3 linked regions of the Homo sapiens genome follow. The protein of the gene in region 2 purifies or fractionates together with the protein of the main gene of each other region. This does not show direct contact. Each region holds a gene or a part of one and is shown on either strand. Other genes may lie near its edges.

Region 1 (2,361 bases), on a different chromosome or scaffold from region 2:
CCCCATCCTATTTGTTTCACCCCCTGTCACTTATTTCCCTCTTCCTGACCACTTTGAACCTGATGCCAGCCCCTCACAGTCACTGCATTGCATCTGGATGAGCCACTTTTCTTCCTGATTTCCTGAGCTCTAGGGGAGCATAGAGATAATGGGGTCAGGGGACACAGTGTGGCCACCGTGAAGGAAGCAGCTTAGGCCCCAGAAGTCTCCAGGATTGCTGTACCGAGATGACCAGGGTGTGATCTCTCACCCTAAGGAGCTGAATTTGGCTTTTCTGTGGGAAAGTGTCTGGGAAGAATATCAGAGACCAATAGCGCTCAGGGGGCCCTTTCTCGGGGCTGTCCAGTGTGGAAACACCCTGTCCTACACCAGTGGTTCCTGATTCCGGCTCTGAATCAGATTCACGAGGGCAACTTTTTTTTTTTTTTTGATATGGAGTCTTGCTGTCGCCCAGGCTAGAATGCAGTGGCGCGATCTTGACTCACTACAACCTCCGTCTCCTGGATTCAAGAGATTCTCCTGCCTCAGCCTCCAAGTAGCTGGGATTACAGGCAGGCACCACCATGCCTGGCTAATTTTTTTGTATTTTTTAGTAGAGACGGGATTTCGCCATATTGGCCAGGCTGGTCTCGAACTCCTGACCTTATGATCCGCCCGCCTTGGGCTCCCAATGTGCTTTGGTTACTGGCGTGAGCCACTGCACCCGGCCTGGGGCAGCTTTTTATAAGCACAGATGCCCAGGCCTTATTATTGAAGATTCCAATTCAGTAGATCTGGGTTGAGGACCAAGCATCTGCATGTTTTAAGAAGCCACAGGTTATTTTTGAGGTGTAGCAAGGATTGAAAGAACAGAAAACTTGGATTTGGAAAACTAGTTGTGACTTTAGGCAGTGAGTCAGTTTCCTAATGCACACATTGGGGGATTCTATAGGAATGCTGTAAGAAGCAAATAATACATGGAGAGAGTGCTTTATACAGCGATACACTGCACAGACACACTTGCCTTCAACATCAGCTGCCAGCCTAGTAAGTGGTAGTATAAATGCAAAGGATATAACTTCCTTTAGTTTTGCCAGGTGGGTCCCTGTGATTCTAGCTGAGCCCCAGGAAGGAAGGGAAGAAAACTGAGGGAAGAGAAGGGAGTGTGTAGTTGCCTCTGGGAAGGATAAAAGGATATGCCCTCTGGACCAATAGTTTATAACATTTTCCCCATTAAGCATCCTTCTACTCATTTTTCCTCAATGGATTAGTATCTTTAAATTTCATTACATTTCCCTAGTCTTCATGGAATTGCCAGCCAGAGAAGTCAGCTCGGGGTCCCCCTAAAAAGGAGGACTGGCCGGGAGTGGTGGCTCGTTCCTGTAATCCCAGCACTCTGGGAAGCTGAGGTGGGTGAATCACCTGAGGTCAGGAGTTCGAGACCCGCCTGGCCAACATGGTGAACCCCATCTCTACTAAAAATACAAAAATTAGCCAGGCGTGGTGTTGGGCACCTATAATCCCAGCTACTCCGGAGGCTGTGGCAGGAGAATCGCTTGAATCTGGGAGGCAGAGGTTGCAATAAGCTGAGATCATGCCATTGCACTCCAGCCTAGGCAACAAGAGCAAAACTCCGTCTCAAAAAACAAAAAAAAGGGAGTGTATGCCTGCATATGTATCAAATGCTGTAGGAAGGATATTCAAGAAATTTAGGGCCCTGGGAGGTGGGGAGACTTACAAAAGTGGACGTGACAGTGTTATTTGAAGTTTTAATCATGAGATGACTGTTCAGTTCTTTAAAATATCACACCTGATTGGTTGTGAATGGCAGAGGCCACCAGAGTATTTGCAGATTGGGAGCTCTACGTGGGTGGACATCGGGTCTTGCTTACTGTGAGCCCCAGGACCTAGAACACCACTTGCATACTGGAGGTGCTCAGATCATTTTTTTTTTTTTTTTTTTGCAGACAGGGTCAGATGTGTTACTGGGCTGGAGTGTGGTGGCACAATCACGCTCACTGCATCCTTGACCTCCTGGGCTCAAGTGATCTTCCCACCTCAGCCTCCCAAGTAGCTGGGACTACAGGTACGCCTCACACTTAGCTAATTTATGTATTTTTTGTAGAGGGTTTCTCCATTTGCTCAGAGTGGTCTCGAACTCATGGGCTGAAGTGATCTGTCCACCACAGCCTCCCGAAATTCTGAGACTGAAGGCATGAGCCAGTGTGCCAGGCCTAGAATATTTGTTGAGTGAATGCATGGAAGCCCAACTAGATAGCATTTTGGAAAACAGTAACAAGTTAGAAGATTAATACCATACAGTCACTAGAAGGTTAATTATGAACAAGTAGAAACAGAATATTTTTAATAAATGAAATAGAC
Region 2 (3,660 bases):
GGATAAAGAGGCATCGTAACTGGTCTTGAGTGGGCTCAGAGTGGTTGGAATCTCTGGGCACCCTTGGGCAGATGTTACCTACGTTTACTAAACCTCTGTGTCATCTTCTCGAAAATGGGAATAATAATACCTCTTACCTCAGGAGCATTTTGAAGACAAGCTAAGGCATGTGAAATGTTTAGCAAAGAGCTGGGTGCTCATAAGGAAAATTGTTAGCCAAAATTATGTTGTTATGTTTTAAGTAAGAGTACAGTGATTTGACATTTATAGAATATAGAAACTTATTTTGTATTCGTATGGGTAACCTTAGTTTGATCAGAATTAGATGAGTTACTGTGCTCAGAAGTCTTAAAAACCAAACAGGAGGCCAGGCACAGTGGCTCACACCTGTAATACCGGCACTCTGGGAGGCCGAGGCAGGCGTATCACGAGGTCAGGAGTTCGAGACCAGCCTGACCAATATGGTGAAACCCTGTCTCTACTAAAAATACAAAAAAGGTAGCCGGGCGTGGTAGCACATTCCTATAATCCCAGCTACTCGGGAGGCTGAGGCAGGAGAATTGCTTGAATCCGCGAGGCAGAGGTTGCAGTGAGCCAAGATTGTGCCACTGCACTCCAGCCTGGGCGACAGAGCAAGACTCCTTCTCCAAAAAAAAAATAATAATAACAGGAAGGCCGGGCCTGGTGGCTCACACTTGTAATCCCAGCACTTTGGGAGGCTGAGTTGGGCAAATTGCTTGAGCCCAGGAGTTTGAAACCAGCCTGGGCAACATGGTGAAACCCTGTCTCTACAAAAAATACAAAAATCTGCTGGATGTGGTGGCACGTGCCTATACTCCCAGCTACTCAGGAGTCTGAGGCAGGAGGATCACCTGAGCCTCGAGAGCCAGAGGTGGAGGCTGCAGTGAACTCTGATTGTACCACTGCACTTCAGCCTAGGTGACAGGGTGAGACCCTGCCTTAAAACAAACAAACAAAAAAAACCCAAATAGGCCAAATTCTCATCAAAACTCTGAAAAATAGCATGTGCATTGGTCATTTCTAGCCCTCTTGACTTACTGTAGGTGTGATCAGCACTGGAAAAGATGCCTGCCCCTGCTGCCACATATGAAAGAGTAGTTTACAAAAACCCTTCCGAGTACCACTACATGAAAGTCTGCCTGTAAGTTTAGTTTCCTAAGTTCTATTTTAGATTACTTTTCTAACATGAATCTGAATAGAATGAAATTTAATATGACTTTTTTTTTTTTCACTTTTTTTAGAGAATTTCAAGATTGTGGAGTTGGACTGAATGCTGCACAGTTCAAACAGCTGCTTATTTCGGCTGTGAAGGACCTGTTTGGGGAGGTATGGAATCACTTGGTAGATTGAACATTCCAAAGATCTTTGTAAGAAATACAGAAAGAGGCCGGGCGCGGTAGCTCACGCCTGTAATCCCAGCACTTTGGAGGCCGAGGTGGGCAGATCATGAGGTCAAGAGATCGAGACCATCCTGGCCAACATGGTGAAACCCCATCTGTACTAAAACTGCAAAGATAAGCTGGGTGTGGTGGCAGGCACCTGTAATCCCAGCTACTCGGGAGGCTGAGGCAGGATAATTGCTTGAACCCGGGAGGCAGAGGTTGCAGTGAGCCGAGATAACGCCACTGCACTCCAGCCTGGCAACAGAGCGAGACTCTGTCACAAAAAAAAAAATCGAGAAAGAATGCTTTTCAAACATCAAAAAAAAAAAAAAAATAAATTATACAACTCTGTATTTTTAAATTTTTATTCATTTATTGTAATAAACACATTTGTATTCCTTTTTTTCCTCCTTCATCCTCTCTACCCTCCTACCCTTCCCAGCCTCTGATAATCACCAATCTACTTTCTATCCTCATGAAATCTACTTTTTGTTGTTGTTGTTGTTGTTGTTGTTGTTTTTCTTTGAGATGGAGTCTTGCTTTGTTGCCCAGGCTGGAGTGCAATGGCACATTCTTGGCTCACTGCAGCCTCTGCCTCCCAGATTCAAGGGATCTTCCTGCCTTAGCCCCCCTGGTAGCTGAGATTACAGGCACACGCTACCATGCCCAACTAATTTTTGTATTTTTACTAGAGACAGGGTTTCGTCATGTTGGCCAGGCTGGTCTTGAACTCCTGACCTCAGGTGATCCACGCGCCTTGGGCTCCCAAAGTGCTGGATTACAGGCACGAGCCACTGTGCCTGGCAAGATCTGCTTTTTTAGCTCTCACATATGAGTGAGAACATGCAACAGTTGTCTTTCTGTGCCTGGCTGGCTTCACTTAACAAAATGGCCTCCAGTTCTATTCATGATGCTGCAAATGACAGAATTTCATTCTTTTTTATGGCTGAATAATATTCCATTGTAATATATACCACTTTTTTTTTTTTATCCATTGATGGGCACTTAAGTTCTACATTTTGCCTATTGGGAATACAATAAATATGAGAGTGCATATGTCCTTTTTTTTTTTTTTCCCCACCTTGGCTTCCCAAAGTGCTGGGATGACAGCATGAGCCACTATGCCCAGCTGCACATGTCTTTTTGAATTGATTTCCTTTCTCTTGGATTTATGCTCAGTAGTAGACTTGCTGGATTAAATGGTATTCTATTTTTAGTTTAGTTTCTTTTGTTTTTTGTTTTTGAGATGAAGTCTTGCCGTGATGCCCAGGGTGGAGTGCAGTGGCATGGTCATGGCTCACTACAGCCTCAACCTCCCAAGCTCAAGTGATTCTCCCACCTCAGTATCCCGAGTAGCTGGGACCACAGGCGTGTGCCACCACGCCAATTTTTTTACTTGTAGAGGCAAGGTCTCACTATGTTGCCCAGGCTCCTGGACTCAAGCAATCCTCCTGCCTTGGCCTCCCAAAGCACTGGGATTACAGACATGAGCCACTGCACCTGACCTATTTTTAGTTTTTTGGGAAACCTCCATACTGCTCTCCACAGTGGTTGTACATTTACATTCCTCCCAGTAGTGTGTGAGGGTTCCCCTAGAGATTATTTTATTTTATTTTTATTTATTTATTTTTTGAGACAGAGTCTCGCTCTGTCACCCAGGCTGGAGTGCAGTGGCACAACCTCCGCACCCCCCCCCGCCCCTCCCGGATTCAAGTGATTCTCCTGCCTCAGCCTCCCGAGTAGCTGAGACTACAGGTACCTGCCACCACGCCCAGCTAATTTTTGTATTCCCCTAGAGATTATTTTAAAACTGTGTTTGAAATTGCAGAAGTAAACTTTCAGAAGTGATGAATTTTGTTGGGTTTATTCTAATATGCCTTCTGTTTGACAAGGAACACGTTAGACAAATGATTGTTGTAGCACAGTGCTACTCAAAGTGTGGCCTAGACTGGCACCTGCAAACTCTTTTCCCATCTTGAAGAGATAAGGAATTTGCAGCAGAACCACTTTTAATGAGAAAGTCTCCTTATGGGCCAGGCGCAGTGGCTCACTCCTATAATCCCAGCTCTTCGGGAGGCTGAGATGAGCAGATCACTTACAGTCAGGAGTTTGAGACTAGCCTGGCCAACGTGGTGAAACGCTTTCTCTACTGAAAATACAAAAATTAGCTGGGCATGGTGGCGCACGCTTGTAGTCCCAGCTACTTGGAAGACTGAGGCAGGAGAATTGCTTGAACCTGGGAGGCAGAGGTTGCAGT
Region 3 (3,660 bases), on a different chromosome or scaffold from region 2:
GTTGAATAACTGTGGTGAAAGTGGGCATCCTTGTTATGTTCCCAATCTTAGAGGACAGGATTTCAGTTTTTGTCCATTCAGTATAATACTAGCTATGGGTTTGTCATATATGGCTTTTATTCTGTTGAGGTATGTTCCCTCTATACCCATGTTTTTGAGGGTTTTTTGTCATAAAGGGATGTTTAATATTATCAAATGCTTTTTCAGCAACAATTAAAATGATCATGAGGTTTTTGTTCTTCATTCTGTTGATATGATGTATCTCATTAATTGATGTGTGTATGTTGAACCATTCTTGCATCACTGGAATAAATTGCACTTGGTCATGATAAATGATCTTTTGTTTTGTTTTTGTTTTCACTTTTAAGTACAGGGGTACATGTGCAGATTTGTTATTTAGGTAAACTTGTGTCATGGGTGTTTGTTGTACAAATTATTTCATCACCCAGGTATTAAGCCTAGTACCCATTAGCTATTTTTTTTTCTGAGTCCATGTATTCTCATCTTTTAGCTGCCACTTGTAAGTGAGAATGTGTGGTATTTGGTTTTCTGTTGCTGCATTAATTTGCTAGGGATAATGGCTTCTAGCTCTGTTCATGTTCCTATAAAGGACATGATCTCATTCTTTTTTAAAAAAGTGACTTTATTTTATTTTAGTTACATAAATTACAAAATATCACTAAGTGAAAATAAAATCAATAAAAATCATCCATGATACCACCCACTTTAACATTTATGTGTATAGCCTCTTATGCTTTATTTCCTCACATATATAGATAAATACATTCATCAAAAAGAGGTTATTTCATATATTAAGTTGGTACAAAATTAATTGCGCTTTTTGCCATTACTTTTAATACATTGTTTTGCAAACTATTTTTATTTCACAATATATTATGAATTTATTTCTATAACATTAAATATATTATCTGTATGTATGTGTGTCTTGGTTTCTTATGACTAAAATTTTTTAAAATTAAGGCGTTGTTATGTTGAGATAGTTGAAGATTCACATGCAGTTTTAAGAAATAATACAGAGAGATGCTGTGTGCCCTTTACCAAGTTTCCCTTAATGATAACATCTTGTAAAACTATAGTATGATAAGAAAACCAGGACATTATTGACATTGATGCAGTCAGATACAGAAGATTTTCATCACTACACAGATCCGTGTTGCCCTTTTAAAGCCACATCCACTTGTGTCTCATCCAGTCCCTCAACCATTAATCTCTTTTCTGCTTTGATAATTTTATCATGTCAAGAATGTTACGTAAATGGAATAAAACAGTATATCACCTTTTGGGATTGTCTTTTTTTTCCCCACTCAGCACAATTCCCTGGAACTTCATCCAAGTTGTTGTGTGTATCAACAGTTTGATCCTTTTTATTGCTGAGTACTACTCCATGATACTGATATGCCACAGTTTGTTTAATTATTCAGCTGTTGAAGGACATTTTGGTTGTCACTAGTTTTGGGTTATTACAAACAAGGCTGTATAAATCCTCTTTTACAGGTTTCTTTATGGACATAAGTTTTCATTTCTCTGAGATAAATGCCAAAGGGTCTAGTTGTTTGGTCGCGTAGCAGCTGCATGTTTAGATTTGGAAGAAATTGCCAAAGTGCTTTCCAGTGTGGTCATACTATTTTACATTAAAACCAGCAATATTTCTGTGCATTCTTACCAGCATTTTGTGTTGTCACTATTATTATCTTAACTATTTTGAAAGCTGTGTAGTGACATTTTATTGTTTAAATTTGCATTTCCCAAAAGGCTAATAAAATTGAACATTTTGTCTGCTTATTTGTCATCTGCATGTCCTCTTCAGTGCAATGTCTGTCCATGTCCTTTGCTCATTTTCTTTTTTCCTTTTTTATTTTAGAGTATTTAGTTGGCAAATAAAGATTGTATATATTCAATGTATACAACACAATGATTTTGTTTCTTTTTAAAAAGAATTATTTATTTTTCAATGGGTTTTTGGGGAACAGGTGAAGTTTGGTTACATGAATAAGATATATAGTAGTGATTTCAGAGATATTGGTGCATCCGTCACCCAAGCAGTGTACACTGTACCCAATGTGTAGTCTTTTATCTTCACTCCCCCACCCCTTTCTCTGAGTCTTCAAAGTCCATTGTATCATTCTTATGCCTTTGCGTCCTCATAGCTTAGCTCCCAATTATAAGTGAGAACATACCATGTTTGGCTTTCCATTCCTGAGTTACTTCACTTAGAATAATAGTCTCCAATTCCTTCCAGGTTGCTGCAAATGCCATTATTTAGTGCCTTTTTATGGCTGAGTAGTATTCCATGGTGTGTGTATGTGTGCATATATATATATATATATATATATATATATATATATATATATATATCACATTTTCTTTTTTATTATACTTTCAGTTCTTGGATGCATGTGCAGAACGTGCAGGTTTGTTACATAGGTATACATGTGCCATGGTGGTTTGCTGCACCCATCAACCCGTCATCTAGGTTTTGGGCTCCACATGCATTAGGTAATGCTCTCCCTCTCATTTCCCCCCACTCCGCAACTGGCTCCAGTGTTCCATGTGTTCTCATTGTTCAGCTCCCACTTATGAGTGAGAACATGTGGTGTTTGCTTTTCTGTTCCTGTGTTAGTTTGCTGAGAATGATGGGTTCCATCTTTATCCATGTCTCTGCAAAGGACATGAACTCATTCTCTTTTATGGCTGCATAATATTCCATGGTGTATCTGTGCCACATTTTCTTTGTCCATTCTATCATTGATGGCCCTTTGGGTTGATTCCAAGTCTTTGCTCTTGTAAATAGTGCTGCAGTAAACATATGTGTGCATGTGCCTTTATGGTAGAATGATTTATAATCCTTTGGGTATATACCCAGTAATGGGATTGCTGGGTCAAATGGTATTTCTGATTCTAGATCCTTGAGGAATTTTCACACTGTCTTCCACAATGATTGAACTAATTGACATTCCTACTAACAGTGTAAAAGTGTTCCTATTTCTCCACATCCTCTCCAGCATCTGTTGTTTCCTGACTTTTTAATGATTGCCATTTTAACTGATGTGAGATGGTATCTCATTGCGGTTTTGATTTGCATTTCTCTAATGATCAGTGATGATTAGCTTTTATTCATATGATTGTTGGCCACATAAATGTCTTCTTTTGAGACGCTCATATCCTTCACCCACTTTTTGATGGGGTTGTTTGGTTTTTTCTTGTAAATTTATTTAAGTTCCTTGTAGATTCTGGATATTAGCCCCTTGTCAGATGGATAGATTGCAAAAATTTTCTCCATTCTGTAGGTTGCCTGATCACTCTGATGACAGTTTCTTTTGCCATGCAGAAGCTCTTTAGTTTAATTAGATCCCATTTGTCAATTTTGGCTTTTGTTGCCATTGCTTTTGTTGTTTTAGTCATGAAGTCTTTGCCCATGCCTATGTCCTGAATGGTATTGCCTAGGTTTTTTTCTAGGGTTTTTATGGTTTTAGGTCTTATGTTTAAGTTTTTAATCCATCTTGAGTTAATTTTTGTATAAGGTGTAAGGAAGGGGTCCAGATTCCGTTTTCTGCATATGGCTAGCCAGTTTTCCCAGCACCATTTATTAAATAGGGAATCTTTCCCCATTTCTTGTTTTTGTCAGGTTTGTCAAAGATC

Evidence for each region.
Region 1: the proteins of RPP14 (region 2) and RPP38 purify together in Homo sapiens (co-immunoprecipitation; 2 studies listed by BioGRID and IntAct, with this or other methods). This does not show direct contact.
Region 3: the proteins of RPP14 (region 2) and CLIC2 purify together in Homo sapiens (affinity purification with mass spectrometry; one large-scale study listed by BioGRID and IntAct). This does not show direct contact.

What each region holds. Positions count from the first base shown.
Region 1 is NC_000010.11:15,100,272-15,102,632, forward strand, and holds part of RPP38 (ribonuclease P protein subunit p38), read left to right. Parts: intron 1-1,946; 5' UTR 1,947-2,065; intron 2,066-2,361. UniProt on the Homo sapiens protein: Component of ribonuclease P, a ribonucleoprotein complex that generates mature tRNA molecules by cleaving their 5'-ends. Also a component of the MRP ribonuclease complex, which cleaves pre-rRNA sequences.
Region 2 is NC_000003.12:58,309,245-58,312,904, forward strand, and holds part of RPP14 (ribonuclease P protein subunit p14), read left to right. Parts: intron 1-1,064; 5' UTR 1,065-1,085; coding exon 1,086-1,162; intron 1,163-1,262; coding exon 1,263-1,347; intron 1,348-3,660. UniProt on the Homo sapiens protein: Component of ribonuclease P, a ribonucleoprotein complex that generates mature tRNA molecules by cleaving their 5'-ends.
Region 3 is NC_000023.11:155,324,478-155,328,137, reverse strand, and holds part of CLIC2 (chloride intracellular channel protein 2), read left to right. Parts: intron 1-3,660. UniProt on the Homo sapiens protein: In the soluble state, catalyzes glutaredoxin-like thiol disulfide exchange reactions with reduced glutathione as electron donor. Displays weak glutathione peroxidase activity. Can insert into membranes and form chloride ion channels.